4 separate regions of the Homo sapiens genome follow, and all the other regions are linked to region 3. The links come from fine-mapping of genetic effects on gene expression. A gene starts in region 3. Each other region holds a variant in brackets. All regions are shown on one strand. Distances are between the middles of the regions.

Region 1 (5,148 bases), 37 kb before region 3:
CTCCAAATATGGGCTGCTCCAGTTTCTGCAGCGTGCAGATGAGTCTCTGGCTTCTGTAGTAGAAATCCAGGCCCAGGTCCCCATCTGCCTCGGTCCTTGATGAGATGCAGGTCATCCACAGTCTCAAAGCAGGTAGAGGGGTCCATGCTGCCCCAGGGGACAATACCTACAAGGTGTTACAAACACCTCCAGCCAAAAACAGGTGCTGCCACTAAAGCTTCCCAGATCCAGGTTCCACAGCCAGGATCCGTCTTCTGTCTGTGGCAGAGGTGAATGAGGAGCTGTTTGCATTGAGGCTGCAGAGAACATGGCTGTATTATGGAGATGAGAAGGAGCCACGCTGGCCTCTGTTCATGGCCCTCCACTGAGCACCTGGGCTTGGCAGACAGAGGGGTGTAGTAGTCTGAAGATCTGGCTCTAGCCTCCAAGTGAGAAGCTCCCACTCCCAACTCATGTCCATATCTCAACTGCTCATTTGAGTCCTTGGGAGAGGGCGAGGGGAGGTGGGGAGGAGGAAGCCCAAGAGTTTGTCCCCTGGCCTCTGCCAACACTGCAAATGTGGCCACTTTAACAGGCTAACAGACTGGACGTCCTCCCATGTGTGTAAAATCCCCATACCTCCTCCAGCAAACTCCATGTTGGCTGTAGAATGAAGGCCACCTTCTGCCCGGCATGGCATCTGCAGCTTGACCCTCTTATCCGGCCTTATTCTCGCCTTTGCTCTTCACAATCCTCATCCCGTCCGACTGTGGCTCTGAACTCTCTGCCCATCCCTCCATCCCACCGTTGTCACATGGTGCCCAGAAGACCCTGAATGCCCACCTTATTCTTTTCACTCATCATGTCTAGTGCATCCTTGACCCCACTCTAGCTCAGTCCCCTCTGCTGTGAGAAATACTTCCTGACCCTACCAATTAACAGGCAGCTTGTCTCTCCAAATTCCACTAGTGTGCTCACACAGATTCATGCAGCTAGAGTTGTTAATAATTCTTATATGAGTGTTCTTTGTCGTCCTCCACTAGACTGTAAATGCTTTGCAACAAGGAACCATTCCTTAACATTCATGTATAGCCCTACACAGGTGGCCAACAATTGATGGAACTTGATGACCCTACAACCAGTTGTCCACTAGGTGTGTCCAGAGTGTTGTTTCTTGCTTAGAGCATGATTTTTGCTGTCAGAAGGACCTCAGTTCAAATCTTGACTGTGTCAACTACCAGCTCTGTGACCTCAGGAAACTATTTAACCTAACTGTGTTTGTTTCCTCTTCTGTAAAAGCAGAGATGTACAGTAATCGGCCCCCAGGTTTATTGTAGATTTAAAGCATGGGAAATTCTTGCTTGGTGCAGTACCTGGCATGAAATCAAGGCTCACTAAATAGCAGCCATTATTATTATCGGGTTAGTTTGGGGCTGGTGCCTCTGCTACAGTGAGTCTTAACAAGCATCAAATTAATGGAGATAGATCCTGGTTTTAGGGGAGGCATCCTGGAGAGAATGTTGAAGTGAGTTTTGGAAATCCGACAAGGAGAGAAATCAGAAGTTAACCCAATTGCATTTCTCCCAACTTTTCAACAGCCTTCAGGCATACTCATTTTTAGCTGATTCTCCAGATATTGCTAGAACTTTTCCCAGAGGCAGATGCAGAGTGACTGTGCAGACTCTGAAAAACAGTGCTTGTCACCTGACCTTAAATGTAACAAACAACCCCTGAGGAAGGTAGCTCCAATTACAGTCATGAAGTTGGAGGAGCCCTTTCAAGGCAGATTGATTTACTGGACCAGAAATACAGCTCAACATCCCACACACAGATTTCTGCCTTTGGCAAACTGCCCTGCCTGCTTCCTTCTCTCTTGCCCTGGCGTATTGATCTGCATGTGTGAGTTGGTGTAGTTTATTGTATAGGGTTGTGTGTGTGTGTTTGTGTGTGCTGTGGTCCCAGGATGGAAGCTCCTAGATTGGGAGCCCTCTAATTGAGTGATGTCCAAAGCCTTAATCGAGGGAAATCTTGCTCCATTTCTTTTTGTGGTGGCTTTAATTTCATCCCTCTGCTTCAGGTTGGCATAGAATGTTCCAGAAGGCCTCTCACTCTGTCTGATTCCTGTGCTTCTGAGTATATGTAGTAACATGTTGTTGTATAAGGAAGGAAAAAAACTAGTTTTTGTTGTGTGCCTTGTGCCAGACAAAAAAAAATTACCATCTCCATGAGTCACATAAGAAATTGAGACTTGGAAGCATTAGGAACATGCCTAAAATCCAATGCTGGTA[G/A]AGCCAGGATCCAAACACAGGTGTGTCTGACTTGATGCCCTCTGTCATAGTGACTCCAGGCTTGGCCCTGCTGGGAGATGGACGCCCAGCCACTATGGGAGTGAAGTCCAACTCATAGGGTCATTTTGAATGGGAAAACTTTGAAATCTAGGGGCATAATTTCAATTCATATCATCGTATTTTGCACCCATCATGTGCATGGCTATGTGGCCTTCTCCCTTGTATTAGTTATTGATTGCTGTGTGAAAAATTAGTACAAACTTGGTGGCTTTGAACAACACACATTTATTATCTCACAGTTTCCACTGTTCAGGAATCTAGGCACAGCTGGACTCCCTGTTCAGGGTGTCACAAGGCTATACTCACAGTGCCGGCCAGGCTGTGTTCTCATCTGGAAGCTCAACTGGGGAAGCATCCATTTCCTTGCTCACATGTGTTGGCAGCATCCATTCTCTGAGGTAGTAGGTCTGAGAGCTTCAGTCAGCTGGAGGCTACTGCAGTTACTTGCCACATGGGGTTTTCAACAGGGCTACCTGCCTCCTCACGGCCAGCCAGGAACTGAAATTCCTGCACGATTATGCTGTGTGTGATATAATCACATACCTCCTTTCACCTTTGTCATATTCTGTTGGTTAGAAGCAATTCATAGACCTCACCCACCCTTGAGGGGAGGGGAGCACACAAGGCCATGGGCACCAGTAAGCAGGGGTCCTGGGTAGGGGGCACCCTACAGGTCTGTCCACCACATCCCTCTTTCCCTTTCTCCTCTTCTCCTTCCTTACCCTCTTTCTTCATTTCCCCTTTCAAGTCTAGCCTCAGACATAGGGCTTTGCCAATAAATATTAGCTTTAGAGTAATGATGTTAATAAGTGACATCACTATATTCCAGGCACTAGTTTTTTTAACTTTCTATTGAAGTATAATATACATACAGAAAACTGCAACACCCTAAGTATAGAAACCAATGAATTCTTCAGAAACTGAACATGCCTATGTAACCATCACATAGATCAAACAGGAAGATACACTGCTAGCACCCTGAAGCCCTTCTCAGGCTTCCTTCTAGGCCTTAACACCCTCAATGGTGAACTTTTTTTTTCAATACAGCGTCTCATTCTGTTGCCCAGGCTGGAATGCAGTGGTATGAGCATAGCTCACTGTAGCCTCCAACCCCTGGGCTCAAGTGATCCTCCCTCCTCAGCCTCCCAAGTAGCTAGGACTACATGCATGCACTACCATGCCTGGCTATTTTTTTTTTTTAGAAATGAGGTCTTGCTACATTGCCCAAGCTGGTCTTGAACTCCTTGCCTTAAGCAATCCTCCCACCTCAGCCTCCCAAAGTGCTGGGATTACAAGTGTGAGCCACTGTGCCCAACCAAAGGTGAACTTTTAACAGTATAGGAACTATTAATTTAGACTGTTTCTGTATAAATTATAAGCAGAATCCTACAACATGTATTATTTCATTTCTGGTTTCTTTGACTCAAAATAGTTTTGTTGCATGTGGTTCTAGATTGTTCATTCTCATTGCTGAATAGTAGCCCATCATGCGAAGGTGCCGCAATTTACTTATCCGTTCTACTTTCAATGGGCATTGGGGTAGCTTTCTGGTTGGAGGTATTACAAGTAGTGCTGCTAGGAGCAGCCTAGTATGTATCTTTTGGTGAACACCAGTAAGCATTTCTGCTGGGTATATCTGGGAGTGGGTGTGCTGAGTCACACAGTGTGCATATTTTTTGAGCTGTGTTTATGTATATACAATCCTCACATCCCTCTATGGGAGGCAACATCATCCTCTTTATACACAACAGCCTTCTGGGTCAGACCTACACTTTCTCCATGGGTCCTGAAAGATCAGACAGGAAGGAAGGCCGACAGGTGCAGTGCAGAAAGTGTAGGTTTCACCTATCTTTTCACTATTGACAACCTTCTTTTTTTTTTTTCTTAAGAGACACATTGTTTTGAAGACTTCTGCATACCAATCAAATGTCCTTTGGTTAGTCTCATTTAATTCCTCTAGTGATTCTCTTATTACTCAAAGACACATATAGCCAGCTGCAGAGCTGCTGGTCTGACAACCTACATAACAGCATTGCCTAGTTTCAGATAAAACCAGACAAAATCCAGGTTCAGGTCCACCTTGGTCACCTCCTTACAAGAACACAGGATTTCTGTTGGGCTGTGTAAACACTAGAAGATGCCGCCCTTTCCCTTTGTGATGCTGCAGGGACCTTAGATGACCAAAGACGCCACGTCTCCACTGAGGATCTCTTAGACCGAGACCAGGTCTGAAGCGCTCTGACTTATGCCAATCGATATATATCAATGCATAAGCCATTCACACACCATTTTGACCAGGCACAAGCCATCATTTTTAAACAAAAATTCAAAGTCCCATCCATTTACTTTGGGCTGGTTCTTATGCTATGATAGGTTCCATGAAGGTAGTGAGGAACATTTTCCAAGCTGCTGCCAAGTGGTCAGAAAGACTTCAGGCTACTGCTAGCAGACTGTACTTTGGGGTATACTTTGTTCTTTCCCATTTGTCTCTCTGTTTCTATCTCTCCATCTCTGTCTTTCTCTCTGTCTCTGTCTTTCTCTGTGTGGGTAAGTATGTTTTTTATAGTTAGTATATGTAATGTATATTTACATATATATGAGAGATCTGTCTACCCATCTATCAACTATCAACAAAATTCAGGTCCCATTATATCTTACTTTTTATTAGCATATTTTTTCCATGTGATAAAAGAAAAGTACATTCAAAAATGTAACTTTTAAAGTTATTGTTTGATATTCTATCACGTGCCGTTACCATGATTAATTTAACTAATTCTCTATTTTGGGACATTTAGGCTGTTTCCAGTATTTTGCCATTGCA
Region 2 (5,148 bases), 29 kb before region 3:
GCCTGTCTAATTTTTGTACTTTTAGTAGAGATGAGGTTTCACCATGTTGGCCAGGCTGGTCTTGAATTCCTGACCTCAAAGTGATTTGCCTGCCTGAACTTCCCGAAGTCCTGGGATTACAGGCATGAGTCACCATGCCTGGCCTTTAAATGGACTGCTTCTTAGCTGATGTAAGAATTATGAGTACCCCAGAGAAGTCTATCCCACCAACTAACACAGAGAAAAAATACAAGCAAAATAATCTGTATGAAATATTAGTTTTAATAAAACAGAACCAGTCCATGTATGGAGGCATGGGCATAAGGTCAACTTGCACTAAATGTAACTCGTACGTTTTTTCTAAAATAATTTCTTGAGCATTGTGGTGGCCTTATGTACTAACCCGAAGCTGAACTTCCTGGGAAGCTGATCCAATGGAGCACTTGGAATTCAGGGGTGGAGTCTTCTTCCTGGGTCAGAGCTGGTTCAGGGTCACATGCTCTTGAGGTCCCTAAAGGCCACATGTGCTGCATTTCGCCCAGCAGCTCCCATCACACCTCCTCCTGGAAGGGAATCTCCTATGAACCAAAGCTCCGCTCAAAAACCTGCCAGGGTGGGGGTGGGGACAGGGCTTACAGAGATCCAGCAACAAAGCAGAGTGGGGCTGGTTAGAGGGGTCCGGGGGCATGGGCACTGGAATCACCTAAGACAGCCGCTCAATAGATTCTGGCTCCCTCCAGGCTTCCTGCACCAAAGGTCTGGGGAGGGGCCAGGTCCACAGCCCACAGTCTCAACGGCTGAGGGTGGACGTGCTGGATGGGCACACGCTTAGTAAGTGAAGTTAAAATTTCAGAATAAGGGGCTGGGGGGAGGGGGAAGATGTGTAAGCCCAGACTCTTTCCAGGGTACCAAGTCTACACAGCTGAGAGAAAGTGTGCATAGCAAATAGCCTCAGCCAGCTCCGTTAGGCTTGGAATGCGCACAAGAAAGAATTGTAAAGTTGAAGAAGTTAACTTTATCCATCCTTCCTGGTCTAAAATATGGATGGAGGCCTCTAATCCCAGCACTTTGGGAAGCTGAGTGGAGAGGATCACTTCAGCGCGGGAGTTCGAGACCAGCCCGGGCAACCTAACAAAACCCATCTCCACAAAAGAATAAAAAATTAGCCAGGCATGGTGGCACACACCTGTAGTCCCACCTACTCCAGAGGCCGAGGCAGGAGGATCACTTGAGCCCAGGAGGTTGAGGCTGCAGTGAGCTGTGATCATACCACTGCACCTCCAGCCTAGGCGATAGCGTGAAGCCCTGTCTAAATATATATACGGATGGGGAATTTAGGGACATGGGTCTCTCACAACCCCACATTGGAATGTGGTGAGATGCCTCCACCAGGATGCATCCCCAGGCCTCCTGAAGGGGAGGTGTGAGCTCAACTGTGGGCTGTGGTCAGCCTGGTGGAGGCAGCGGCTGTGTGCTCACCTGTGCATGGATAATTCTGAACACAGGGCAGCTTATGTTGGGAGTTCCCTGCTCCCCTCCCTCTCTGCCACCTTCATTGCTTAACTTCCTCCTTCTCCAAGTCTCTGGCCTCCAGTGAGCCCTCCCAGTCCCCACAGGGTAGTGGGACTCCAGGTCACTCACCAGGATGAGCCCCACTTCCACAGAGATACAGGCCCTGGAGAGGGCAGCGGTAGCCAGAATGCAGGGGCACGGGGCGGGCGAAGTAGAGCTGGTCCAGGGACATGGCGCAGTGGAATATGTTCTGCAGAGGCAGGGCCACAGTCATCAGCACAGGAGAGTTACAGCCTTTCCTGCTCTGGCTGGGTTTCTTCCCCTCCCCTGTTCTTCAGCAAATGTTCTTCTCCTTCCAGGATATTTTCTTGGGTTTTAAAATGCAGAAAGGGAAGGAGATGAGACGGAATGGGCACATGCCCTGGGGCTGGGAGTGAAGTTTTCCAGAGGCTTTTTGAGGAAGAAAGCAGGGTGGGGAACACGAACTGAACGGGAAGGAAAAGAGGGTTTTGCTCTCTACTCTGCATCCCTCTCCCTCTGTTGGAAAAACAGAA[T/C]TGTCTGACTTATTGTGGCTGTTGGCATGCGTCTCTGCGAGAACTCCCTTCTCTGGCCAAGGCATCCACCTGAGCCCGGACCCCGGTGTCCAAGCTCCAGCAGGATCACTGTGAATGGCAGACAAGGGGCAACGGAGCCCGAGCACGGTTCTGCCCCCCTGGCTTGGGTGAGACCAGCCCCAGGCTGAGAAGGGAGGCAGCATGGGACAAGCGAAGGTCAGACTCAGGGGGCAGGTCTGGACAAGAAGCCTGACGTCTGTTGGGCATCCTCACAGGAGTGCTCCCCCACTGCCCTCTTCACCTTTCCCCAAACTGAGGCCATCCTCTTCCCTCGAGTCTGCTCCTCCCCATCCTCCTGCATAAGTGAATGACACCACCTTCCTCCCCCTGGCCTCTGTGCCTACCCTTCACATCACCTCCACCCTGACTCCTATGTGCACACTGTCACCAAGGCTTCTCAAGTCTGCCCGCCCCATGCCTGCTGTACCCAGCCATTCCCTTCCTTCCCGCTGCCTGGCCTTCTTTCCTCTATACCTGGACCAGTGCTGTTCAGTGAACATGTAATGGGAGCTACATATGTAGTTTTTGATTTATTAGTAGCTACATTTAAAAAGTAAAAGCAGAGCCGGTTGTGGTGGCCCATGCCTGCAATCCCAGCACTTTGGGAGGCCAAGGTGGGAGGATCACTTGAGCCCCAGAGTTTGAGACCAGCCTAGACAACACAGGGAGACTCATCTCTACAAAAAAAAAAAAAAATTAGCCAGGTGTGGTGGTGCATGCCTGTAGGCCCAGCTACTCAGGAGGCTGAGGTGGGAGGATGGATGGCTTCAGCCCCAGAGGTCGAGGCTGCAGTGAGCCGTGATTGCACTACTGCACTCCAGCCTGGGTGATAGAACAGGACCTATCTCTAGAAGGAAGAGAGGGAGGGAGGGAGGGAGGAAACAAGGAAGGGAGGGAGGAAGGAAGGAAGGAAGGAAGGAAGGAAGGAAGGAAGGGCAAGCTGATGAAACTAATGTCAATAATATATTTTATTTAGCCCAATATATCCAAAATATTATAATTTCAACATGTAATCAATATATAACTTATTGATGAGATATTTTACATTTTTTTCTATACTGTGTGCATTCTACACTTGCAGCACATCTCACTTTGGCCTCAGATCTTTCTTTTGCTTTTTTTTTAAATTTTCTTTCTAGAGATAGGGTCTCATTCTGTTGCCCAGGCTGAAGTGTAATGACGCATCACAGCTCACTGCAGTCTCAAACTCCTGGGCTCAAGCGATCATCCTGTTTCAGCTTCCTGGGTAGCTGGAACCACAGGTACGCACCACCACACCTGGCGGGGTTTTTGTTTTTGTAGAGATGGGGTCTCACTACGTTGCCTAGGGTGGTCTCTGATCTTTCAAGTGCTCAGTAGCTGCAATGAGGCGATTGAACCTGGCCTCCTATCTGGTCTCCCTGTCTCCAATCTCTAGTTTTTGATAAATTGACAAGTCTGAGGATGTGCTGCTGCCTTGAGAAGGGGGTGCTCTCTCTCAAGAAAGTCAGATGGCAGAGCCAGCATAGTTGTCAAGGCAGAGGGCCACAATCCTGGTGACCTTCTCAGTGGGGGCTGTCCTGCCTGTGTTTCTGAGCCCCCACTAGGGATCCCCCATTCCCTCGGTTTGACCGCTTCTCTGCCCTCTCTCAGCCGGGGTCCCTGCCACTGTCCTCCCTTCCTGATGAAAGCTGAGTATGGAGGGACAAGATAAAGCAGAGAGGTCATAGCCAGGAAGTGAGGGTGCAGAGGGAAGGCTATGGTGAGAGACCCCCTAGGCTTATACATACCCCTCCAGGAAGCCCGAAGATTCTCTCCAAATCTGGTGGTGTGAGGATGTCTCTGCCAACCACAGAGTCCTTGAAGCCAGGGGCATAGACCTCGATGCAATCAAACACTGGGGTGCCAAAAACAGAGAAATGAGATGGTGTTAGGAAGAAGAGGAGGCACTATGGGTGTACAACTTGGCAAATTTACTAACAGTCATTAAATTACACACAGAAATGGGCTTATTTTATCATATGCAAATTATACCTCAATAGGTGAAAAACAAAAATCAGTCCACAAGCAAATGATTAATTCATCCCAAAGATGCATGGGTAGGCCAGTCCAGTCCCCAGTTTTCCCCACTTCCCTACCCCAACCTTAAACACGAAGCTGCTGATCTCCTTTTGCATATGCAGCTTTTTTCACCTCTTCACTTTTCTCAAGCTGTTTTTTTTTTTTTTTTTTTTTTTTTTGAGACGGAGTCTCACTCTGTCACCCAGGCTGGAGTGCAGTGGCGCAATCTCAGCTCACTGCAACCTCCGCCTCTGGGTTCAAACGATTCTCCTGCCTCAGCCTCCTGAGCAGCTAAGATTACAGGCATGTGCCACCACACCCTGCTAATTTTTTTATGTTTTTAGTAGCTACGGGGTTTCACCATGTTGGTCAGGCTGGTCTTGAACTCCTGACCTCGGGTGATCCGCCTGCCTCGGCCTCCCGAAGTGCTGGAATTACAGGCATGAGCCCCCACGCCTGGCCTGATCAAGCTGTTTCTCTTGCTTGGAATGCCCTTTGCTGCCTGGCCAGCTCCTAGTCATCCTTGGAAACCCAGCTTGACCATCCCTTCCTTTGAAAGCCTTCCTTGTCTCTCTGGCTCATGCGTCTCCTTTGGTTCGTGCAGTCAGCTGTGCTGTAATAAAAGGTTTCTTAATTAGTCTCCTCCATCCCTTGCTAGACTGTGAGCAACTGGAGGGCAGGAACTGTGTCTTCTTGACTTTCTTAGCCCAGTTCCTGACCCCTGCAGTCAACTATGTTGACTTGAGGTTCCCTTGACTATTTCCTCCCTTTGGAATGGCACCTGCAGTTGTCAATCCTGAATGGGGCAGTGAGGAGGAGCAGGCCCAGTTGGGTCGCATGCCCGGCTGTGGCTCTGGAGGCAGAACGTGCAGCTGTCTTTACCTCTGTCTGCATAAGCGTCTCTCTCCTGCTCGTCCCAGGCCTTGCCTCCAGCCAGCGTATAGGGCATGTACTGAGTGAAGAGGGAGACTACATGGCAGCCAGGGGGAGCCAGGGTGGGGTC
Region 3 (5,145 bases):
TGCTAATCCCCAGACCTGCCTCAGGGGCCCCATAGCAGGCGCCTGGGCCCTTGAGGAGCTGCTCTGGGCGTGGGCTCTGCAGCTGCCTGCATCAGGCAGTGTTGGTTGGGTGGATGTGCTGACCTCTGGGAGACACCTCCCGCCCTCAGAATGCTCGTCACCAGGTATGGGGCCAGGAATCTCCATTTTAACAAGCCCCCTCAGTCACTCTCAGGCACATTTAGTCAAATGACTAAATGAGATTCATCTTCAAGGTGGCGGCCAGGTGCCAGTGTGCCTTCAGGGACTCAGAGGTAACCCTTGTCTCAGAAGATGCCGTTCTGTTCCTCACTGAGGCCCAAGATGCCTTTAAACCAGGCTTTATGGTATGTTTAGCAACTAAAGAAATCATGTCAAGGAAAAGCTCACACACTGAGACTCACTCGCACTTGTAGGCAAGTCACCAAGGCAGCTGGTGACCTAAAGTCAACCTTCCCCATTAGGAGACAGCAGGGTGAGCTGTGGCTGAGCACGGAAGGAGGCAGGGGGCTTCTCTGAGGCTAAGTGAGGTGCTGGAGATGGCTCCCACCAGCCCGGGGAGTTTGTGAGCCGGCTGTCAAACAGCCATTGATATAAACTAAATTATATAAGCTTACAATTAAATAAATTAAAAACAAAGGTAATAAATACTCAAAACACACTACCTCCTATTTGTTTTACTACATTTGACTGTTGCCCATGCCCTGGCAGTCACTGGCCTCTATGTACATATCTGCATGGTGGACACACTATACAATGATGTGCTACTGGGTATCTCTCCTAAATCACATTGAGCAACCTCATCTTGGTAACAGAAAAGGCTATGGTGGGAGTATTTACACCACTGTCATCAGCAAATATTACACAGAAGGGCTGAATTTATTTTTTGTGGTCAGGCTTAAGAAAGTGATGGGAAAATGCTAATAATGCAGATTAAACCTAACAGTGTTAGCTGTTATAGCATGAATAAATAGCACAAAAATTGAAGGAAATATTCTAGTATTAGAACAATATTATCTTATTTGAGTAACATCATTCCTGTCATTTAAAGAAGGAGGCCGGGCGCAGTGGCTCACACCTGTAATCCCAGCCCTTTGGGAGGCTGAGGCAGGTGGATCACAAGGCCAGGAGTTTGAGATCAGCCTCGCCAACATGGTGAAACCCCGTCTCTACTAAAAATACAAAAATTAGCCGGGCGTGGTGGTGGGCGCCTGTAGTCCCAGCTACTCGGGAGGCTGAGGCAAGAGAATCGCTTGAACCCAGGAGGCGGAGGTTGCAGTGAGCCGAGATTGCGCCGCTGCACTCCAGCCTGGGCAACAGAGCAAGACTCCATCTCAATAAATGAATAAATAAATAAAATAAAAATAAATTTTAAAAAATAAAGGAGTAAGGTTGGGACATAAATCTTTGTTGTTTCATTTGTTTCACGATCATCCTACTCTTTACAGAAAATATGGAGCACCGTTCTCTTTGGAGCTACCCTCATTTGTCATTTGCAACTATAGGTTGGCTACTGAGTTTGGCAAAAATCAAAGAAAGCCTTTGGTAAGAATCACTCGGGTAGACTGCATTTAAATTGAGAGTATTGTATCTTTATTTGTAAAATTGTGTGCAGTGTATCTTTTATTTCAATATTTAAAATAAGCATGTGTATATGTGTATATATATGTACGTAACACATATACATATATATACACATATATGTGTGTATATATACATATATATACATGTACACACACACATACATCACACATTTTTCCCTGGAGAGGTGAGTGTTGAGTATCTACCAGCTCGCAACTGCTCTAGTACATATGAAAATGAAGGCATGCCCTCAAAGCTGCATGTTGAGTGCCGTCTGCTTTCGGTCCCGTCATTATCTCTGTATAGACCCAGTTGGCAATCATGCATTTGGGGCCCTCTGCAAGTGTGAAAGGAAGGCACTAAGGAAAGACCACCTGGTCCTGGGCCTGCCTCTTCCCCTAGCACCCAGTAGACTGTGATACTCTGAGCCCAGGGGTTGGCAAAGTGTGGCAGATCACTGCAGATCCCCAAATGTCCCAGAGCTGCAAGGCAATGGGGTCCATCTCCCTCTGCAGACACGCAGTAGGAACTCTGGGACTCAGTTCTGTTTTATCCTAACTGGCCTTTATGAAATGACTGCAGTTTCTTGTGACGAGGGGTGGCCTCAGTGGTAAGGTAGTGGTGACCAGAACTCAGGGCACTGAGGGGGCGGGGTGCTGGATTTCACTTGTCTGTTGGCCCAGGGCTCTTTCCAACCCTTACAAACCATAGGCTGAGAATGTGGTGGAAACTAGGTCACTTTGCAAGAGATATAGGGAAACCCCTGAGCTCACCTAGTCTTCCTGTCATTCTCCATGGGAAGATCCAAGCCCAGAGAAGGCAAGCATTTGCCCCAGGCCACACAGCAGAGCCAGCACCGGAATCCCAGGTGCCTGCCTGCCAGATGGAAGGGCTTTCCATTGCAGCCCCTGCTAGCGTATAAACTTCTGGCTGGGTTATGCCAGAGGAGAGAGCAGTGGGGCTTGGCTCCCCCTCCCCCTCCCCACCAAGCTCTGAGCAGGGCTGTCTTCCCGCCCCTCAGCTCTGGCCCGGCCTGCTTTACCACTTTACCTGCTCCTATCACCACCGCATCATACTCAGGCTTCAGACCTCCCCTGGCTTCCGTGTTATCTCGTCTCCACGCCGGGAAGGGAGAGGCGGCCACAGCCTTGCAGAGACCTCGGCCACTTGCAGCCATTTCTGCCCCAGGCTGGGCCTTGCTAGGCAGGGAGTTTGCTAGCGATTGGCTTTTGTGCTGCCCTAGGCACGGGGTGGAGCAGGGAGGAAGCAGGAAGAGGAGGAGCTGCAGTCCCCCTCCAGGCCCCCTCCACCATGCATTCTTGGCCACAGGCCAGCCTCCTGCTGCCCTGGGGCTGTGCTGGGCCGTCGGGAGTGTTGCCTATTAACCAGGCGGTGTCACCTCCAGGATGCAGGGGATAATGGCAAAACTGACAATCCACTGGGGTTCCTATGTCAGGCTGGCATTGTGCTGAACCCTGTAGGCAAAACTCCCCATTTTACAGATGAGGGCGCTGAGGCTGCGGGGTTAGGGAATGAGTGGTGGAGGCAGAGTGGAGCTCGAAAGGGCCCTCTCCTCCCCTGTGCATCTACCTTCTCAGTCAGAACTGAAACGCCTGGGATGGCAAGTGCTCGTGTCAGACTCTGCTCCAACTCCATGCTGAGTCTGCCAGTGCAGAGTGGTGATGCCTCTACGCCCACAGGAGGCGCCCAGGGCGGCCATCTAGCGTCACCACGACCAGGGCCTTCAGACACCGCAGAGGCAGCTGTGTCTGTCGCTGAGGAGCACTGGAGTCCTCTCCTAAATGCTCAAACACAAACCCACAACGAGGGCTTAGGGGCAAGTTCGCTGTCTGTAATTCTCTGGTGTTTTAGTTTTGAAGGCCTGGCCAGTTCTCCTCTTTTGGCACCTTGCCCATTTTCCAAGAATCCCCAAGGATTCGAGGTCACATCTGTAAATACCTCCAGCTAAAGTTCTTTCTGACCCTCCCTTAGGCCTGCCTTGAATTAGGAGCCCCTTTGTTCTCTGCCCATTACTTAGCAGAGTGTTCCCCTAGGAGGAAAAAACCCCTTGGAGCGGAGAGTTCCTGCACTGCTCTGATATCGCAGTGTGACGGAAACCTGCTATTGGTAACGAATCTCAGAACTGGGAGAGTATGTGGAGATGATCCTAAGAGGGGGTTCCGAGGACCCCTCCACACACCATGGACAGTTACCCCGCATGTGAGCATCTCTGCTAAGATCTGATTCAGGATGTTCACTCCTGTGTTATTTATTATATAGAAAGATCAAGGGGACTGGTTAAACTAGACATATCACATCCAGCCGCTGCTAAAAACTAAAGGGAAATAGTAGGTGACAAAAGCAGGGGTCCTGAACAGTGGTGGGCTCAGGGGATTGGAGTTTTTTCCTTTATGTTTTTCTGTATTTTCCACAATCCACGCTTTTCATTGCCATTCCATCAGATGATGTTAAGGAGGAACACAGATCCAGTCACCTGAGGGGATACTTCCTCACTGCCACCTTCTCAGGGTTTAGACCAACATGTGGGTTCTAGTTCCCCCAGCCCCAAAGCTGTTCCCTGCAAGGAAGAGATCAGTCTTTGAGCAAATTTTGGCTCAAGACTAAAGACACAGAAGGCGAGGCTCCTGCATGCACAGCACACGGCCATCTGATCCTGTGCTGCAGTGGACGCTGACTTTCGCCACGCCGTCCTCTCTGGCCCAGCACCGGCCTCCTGGCCTCAGAGGAGCAGACACTCCCAGTCCCAGGGCTCTCAGGGTCTCTTGTCCCTGGGTCCATTCTGGGACAGGAACTTCTCGGTTGGAAGAGAGGGGCTGTACCCCTCGGGTGGTGGTTCTCAATCCAGGGCGCACCACAGAAGCTTTGAAAGACATCAAAGGCTGGGCTCCACGGCCGCCAAGGGAATCCAAATCTCTGGGCCAGGGCCAGGGGCTTGAGAACCCCAGCCCTAGGGCAGACGCCAGCCAAGCATGAAGGGGCTGGGACTTAGCAAGGGCTTATCAGCACTGACAGAAGGGTCTAGAAGCACTAGCATGTTGGGCTTCAGTGATAACAATGACCAACATTTATTGAGCACCTACCACACTGGGTAATCCTCACACCACCCTGGGACGGAGGTGCCATCGCTTTAAACGTGGGGAATAGAAGAAACTTGCCAGGAGGTGCAGAGAGGAAGTGGCAGCGCTGGAATTCAAACCCAGGCAAAGGAGCACCTTTTACCTGGGGTAGGAGAGAGCTTGCTGGGTGGGCTTCCTCCACGCAGGGAACAGCAGAGATGGGGCTTCCTCCCCATCTCCCAGGATAAAGGCAGAGGCAGCTCTGGAAGAGGAGCTGTTGCCACCGTTGTTTTACAAACAGGACCCCTGGGCTTCCCTCTTCCTCCAGAGAGAAGGATCTGGGGCCTTGCTCAGTACCTGACATGGAGGGTGGTCTAGGTGGGGTTTTAGAAGCCCTGGGGCCACCCTGGGCACTCTGCCCTATCCTCAGGATGGCCACTGCAGACAGGAGGCTCTCGTCATGGGGAAC
Region 4 (5,148 bases), 74 kb before region 3:
AGCTGGGCATGGTGGCGGGTGCCTGTAATCCCAGCTACTCCGGAGGCTGAGGCAAGAGAATTGCTTAAACCCGGGAGGCAGAGGTTGCAGTGAGCTGAGATCACACCACTGCACTCCAGCCAGGATGACAGAGCAAGACTCTGTCTCAGGGTGAAAAAACAAGTATACAGCTGAAAGCCCAACGCACCTTTCAAACCTCCAGTGACTCCTAAGTTCAAAACGATACACTGTACTTATGAGATATTAGCTGGCTTTCTATTTAAGACCTACAAGCTTTGACTAATTTGGGGTTGGTGACTTTTCCCCCAAAGAAATTCTTATAAAGAGATATTGCTTGGGGATTATGTAGGTTCCCAAAAGGATATTTGCCTAAGGACCCTCCCAACTCAGTCATACGGCCATTTAGTGGTGCAGCCAGAACAAAATGCTTCCTTGGATTTCAGAGCTTGGGCTGTGGCGTCATTTTGACATGGATCCAACCCCAGCTCCACTGACCCACTGAGGGAATCTGAGCAGACTACTCATCATCTCTACGCCTCCCTTTCCTCCTAGGGTTGTTTCAGGATTAAATGATATAATGCTTGTAAAGGCATAGCACGGGCCTGGCATAGTGCTGAAGGTGAACTATTCTTACAGTCTAGTGACCTTCCTGTGACTCAGGAATAGCACCGCCTAGCGAACTCACTTTTGGAGTAGCCTTTCTTTTTTCCAGCTTTGTTGTGATATAACAGACATACAATAAACTACACACATTTAAGTGTACAATTTGATGAGTTTTGACATAGGTACACACCTGTGAAAATCATCACTATCAGAATAATGAACAGATCCATCACCCCAAAAAGTTTCCTTTGCCCTTTTGCAATCCATCCCTCCCTTCTCCTTGTCCCCCAGCAAACACGGATCTGCTCTCTGTCACTATCGATTAGCTTGCATTTTCTAAACTTTTTATAAATGGAAGCATACCATATGATTCATTTTTTGTCGGGCTTCTTTTACTCAGCATGATTATTTTGAAATCCATCCATCTTTGGATGAATCTCAACTTGGTTTCTGTTTTTTTTTTTTCTTTCTGCGCATGGTGGATAAAGTATTTCCAAATGAGAGATGCAGGCCAGTGGGGTGCTTCTCCAAAGTCCCGGCTGGGGTTTCTAGTGTATTATTGCAGCTGCCTGGGGGTTCTAACACTTGTCTTTTGAGCACTCTGATGCTCCCTGTGTCCCAGTATGTGCAAGTGTAGCTGGTTCAAAAGCCACAGGACTTACCAGGGTGCACACCAGACTCTTGGACGCAACTTTTTCACATTGCGTGTGCCTAGACTTCATCCCCAGGGCTTCAAAGGTCTGAAGTGTGGCCTGGTTGTGAAACTCTGTTTTGAAGTAATGCCACTAATTTCCAAAACTCACCTGGGCAGTGAACACATAAGCAAAAGGAAGGGAGTTCAGGCTGGGCGTGGTGGCTCATGCCTATAATCCCAGCACTTTGGGAGGCCAAAGTGGGCAGATCACTTGAGGTCAGGAGTCCAAGACCAGCCTGGCCAACACAGAGAAACCCCGTCTCTACTAAAAATACAAAAATTAGCCAGGCGTGGTGGTGGGTGCCTGTAATCCCTGCTACTTGGGAGGCTGAGGCAGGAGAACTGCTTGAACCAGGGAGGCAGAGGTTGCAGTAAGCTGAGATTGTGCCACTGCACTCCAGCCTGGGTAACAGAGTGAGACCCTCTCTCAAAAAAAAAAAAAAAAAAAAGGGAGTTGAGGTAGCACCTGATGGTAGGAATCACATTCCATAGAAGATCTGCTATGGGCTGCTCTGTGCACCTGAAAGACCTTGTAAGACATCTGTGGGCCAAGGTGAGTGTGGTACCCACAGTTTTAACAACCACATGTGAAAATAAGTCTGCTCCCTGGGTTTATTTCAGTATTTAAGCACACGTGACCAGAGGGCCACTGCGTGTTGTGTGCATCCGGAAATAAACAGGGTGGTACCATCACCTGCCTGCCCATGCAGTTCCAGAAAACCACACTCAAGAGGACACGGAAATCAATATTGAAAATGAGACACTCAAGTTACCACAAAGAGCTATTTTTGCTTATTCCAAATTGCTCTGTTTCTTTAAGCAGCTATTTGCAGTCAGCCTCTTCTCTGGCTATGTATAGGAATGGCTCAGGCAATCTAAAAAAGAAAGAGGAAAAAGAAAAGAAATCCGCAAATAGGTTCACACCCCAGGGATAAATCTGGGGCATTTGCAAACGTGGTACAAGTCAGTTATTTTCCCAAATACCCAGCCTCTCCAAATTCTACCCACGGGTTGGGAACCATCAAGAAATAAATACCCAGGTACATTAGCGGGTCACTTTCTAGTAAGTGCTCAGAATTTAAAAATAGAGATTTGAAAGGAAATGTCTCCTTTGCCTCTAGTAGGGGGCAGCTCTCTGCTCTGTCTTTTGCTCTGCTATTCTGAGACCACGTTCTGGTGGCAGGTGAGGGGAAGCTCAGGTCTATTTTTAAAACCTTCTGCTTCTCTGACTGTTGCCAGGGAGAACTTGGACAAAAGAGCAGTGCAGAGAAGGGAGGGAAGATCACCGTGAACACTGGTCCAGTGAGTCACTCAGCAATTGTGTGCTGGTTCTACCACCCCCAAAGACATCGGATCTCCCCCCTCAGCTCTATCTCCTTTGCTGCCACCTTGTCTGGGTCACTGTTATTTTTCACCTTGGCCAAGTGGACTTCCTGTTCTTACCCCTGGCTCTTCCAGTCTGTCCTCCACCCTGGA[A/G]CCAGAGAGAGCTTTTTAAAAGTGCAAATTGGACTGAATCACAGCTCGCATTAATATAAATGCATAATAAAAAGTCTGGAAGCTGTTAATAGTGAGTGTCTCTGGGGCAGGGGCGAAGGGAGACTAGAATGTTTTTACTATGCCTGCTTCTGTGCGGTTTGAATTTTATACCAGCAGCTTGTATTTCTTTCATAATTTTAAAAGAATCTCAAACGTTTAATTTGGTCCCTGCACTCTAGGAGTTCTTAATCTTGCATTTGAGTCCCCAACACTAAAAAGTCTATGAATTATGCTTGTTCATTATGGCCTTAAGGAGCAGAAGCTGCCATCACCGAGTGGAAGTGATGAAAGTGAGTATTAAGAAAGAGTGTGCTGATAAGCAGAGCTGCCTGAAGGTGGGCTGGTGAGCCAGCACAGGCAGTGTGCCAGGGCCAGGGCAGATGTCCCAGCTGAGGCTGGTGCCCTTTGCTGCAAAGTGGTCACTTGCCCTTGGGGTCCCTGCAGTTCTGTGACTCCATGGGATGCCCTGGCAGATACTTTTTTTAGCCTGACAGCTTTCTTTCATTTCTACCTCTAGTTTCTTTTTTTTTTAATTGTTATTTTTATAGATTCGGGGACTACAAGTGTAGTTTCGTGATGTTGATATATTGAGTGGTGGTGGAGTCTGGGCTTGTAGTGTAACCATTACCTGAATAGTGTACACTGTACCTATTAGGTAATTTCTCATCCTTCATTCCCCTCCCACCATCCCACCCTTCTGAGTCCCCAGTGTCTTTCTACTAGGTCCATGTGTACACATTCCTTAGCCCACTTATAAGTGAGAACATGCAGCCATCTGCAATTTCTTTTTTTTAAGTGAGAACATGTAGCCACCTGCAATTTCTTTTCTTTTTTTTCTTTTTTTTTTTTTTGAGACAGAGTCTCACTCTGTCACCAGGCTGGAATGCAGTGGCATAATCTTGGCTCACTGTAACCTCTGCCTCCCAAGTTCAAGGGATTCTCTCGCCTCAGCCTCCTGAATAAGCTGGGATTACAGGTGCCCGCCACCACGCCCGACTAATTTTTGTATTTTTTAGTAGAGACGAGGTTTCACCATGTTGGCCAAGATGGTCTCCATCTCTTGACCTCGTGATATGCCCGCCTTGGCCTCCCAAGATACTGGGATTACAGGCGTGAGCCACCGCGCCTGGCCAGCCACCTGCAATTTCCATCAGACAAATACAGTCCTGCAAGTCATAACTTAATCTTGTAGTTTCCTGTGCCCTGAAGGTATGCACAGCAGTTCTTCTACAAGAAAAAAGAACACACAAGATCTATATGGAGTCAAATTGGATACTAGAGTTGGAAGGAGGAGACTCCAGGAACCTCCTTCCTGCCAGGGAGGAACCATCAGCACAAGCATTCCCAGCTAACCTTCCCCCTGCAGCTTCAACTATGGAAGCCACTTCACTTGTAAGTCAAGTCCCATGGGTGCCTGCCCGTGCCTGCCTCCCCCGCCTGCATTCTGGTCCCTCCACTCACTCCCTCGGGCGCAGTGACGCCTCTGGATGCAGCTCATTGTTTGGCTTCTGGAAGAGAAGTCATACACCTGTCCAAAGGGATGACATATCTTTCCAGCTGTCATTATTCTTATTGTGGAATAAATAGAGATATTAGTTTGATTGGACAAGCACTTTATGGAGTCTACCTTGTTCCCTGTAGTCTCTCAGACATTTACAAATCGGTTGAACCATGTTTTTATTTTCTCCACCACCTCAAGGCCATACCATTTCTCTTTTTAATATACAGACTATGCCTTGCACAGAGTAAGTGCCAATAAATATTTGTTGAATTGATTTTCCTGTTCAGAGATGTGGCAGAAAGACCCTCTTGTTTTGTGTGCATAATTCTTCTGTGTGGCGATTGTTGAAATCCTTTCTTATGGATACTGGTCATATCGGCCAGCACCAGGCCAAGTCTCAGGGTCTGAGCTGAATATTACCTGGGTCAACAACCAAAGGCGACCTAAAGCTGAGCACAGATTGTGGTGGGAGAAGGGAGACCATAGAGGGTAAAAGGAGAACAATTCCAGTCCCTCACAGACAGGGATGAATATATGCTGCAGGCAGGAGTCAAGGTAAGAGGCTGAGAGCCCATGAGATGAGGAGCGGGTGACGGAGTAGAGAGAAAAGAGGGATGATATGATGGGTTCAAGGTCAAGGTGGTGGCCAAGGGCGGCCAAGCCAGTCATCCTGGGTTTGCATCCTCGTTCATGCTAGATGCCACTTTGGACAACTCTCTTAACTCCATAGAACCACATCAGCTCCATCTCTATAAGACCAGGGGGCTCATAGTCACTGTGGGGATTTAACAAGGGAACTAGTATTTGTGAAAAC

Alleles and levels. Positions count from the first base shown, and alleles are read on the strand shown. Sizes are in standard deviations (SD) of each study's normalised expression. Not every link is listed here.
As copies of G replace A in region 4, the expression in macrophages of the gene that starts at base 2,823 in region 3 goes down (large effect, 1.0 SD a copy in Alasoo 2018).

What was found. PIP is the estimated chance that this variant, and not a neighbour inherited with it, causes the effect.
Region 1: its variant is the best candidate, but not a certain one, in a credible set for the expression of PYROXD2 in whole blood (TOPMed, PIP 0.73).
Region 2: its variant is the best candidate, but not a certain one, in a credible set for the expression of PYROXD2 in whole blood (TOPMed, PIP 0.60).
Region 4: its variant is the best candidate, but not a certain one, in a credible set for the expression of PYROXD2 in macrophages (Alasoo 2018, PIP 0.68).

What each region holds. Positions count from the first base shown.
Region 1 is chr10:98,374,925-98,380,072 of GRCh38, forward strand. No RefSeq gene overlaps it. Among named protein-coding and RNA genes, the nearest start is that of MIR1287, 18 kb to the right of the region's middle. RefSeq lists enhancers at 1-377, 378-877. The variant G/A (reference allele first, on the strand shown) is at 2,268.
Region 2 is chr10:98,383,327-98,388,474 of GRCh38, forward strand. It overlaps PYROXD2 (pyridine nucleotide-disulphide oxidoreductase domain 2), which reads right to left. Exons shown (of 16, transcript NM_032709.3): 13 at 5,028-5,148; 14 at 3,875-3,981; 15 at 1,621-1,741; 16 at 242-542. The coding sequence ends at 472. Among named protein-coding and RNA genes, the nearest start is that of MIR1287, 9.4 kb to the right of the region's middle. The variant T/C (reference allele first, on the strand shown) is at 2,046.
Region 3 is chr10:98,412,360-98,417,504 of GRCh38, forward strand. It overlaps PYROXD2 (pyridine nucleotide-disulphide oxidoreductase domain 2), which reads right to left and starts at 2,823. Exons shown (of 16, transcript NM_032709.3): 1 at 2,650-2,823. The coding sequence starts at 2,776. HPS1 (HPS1 biogenesis of lysosomal organelles complex 3 subunit 1) reads right to left here. Exons shown (of 20, transcript NM_000195.5): 20 at 3,839-5,145.
Region 4 is chr10:98,337,973-98,343,120 of GRCh38, forward strand. No RefSeq gene overlaps it. Among named protein-coding and RNA genes, the nearest start is that of MIR1287, 55 kb to the right of the region's middle. RefSeq lists an enhancer at 2,602-2,731. The variant A/G (reference allele first, on the strand shown) is at 2,774.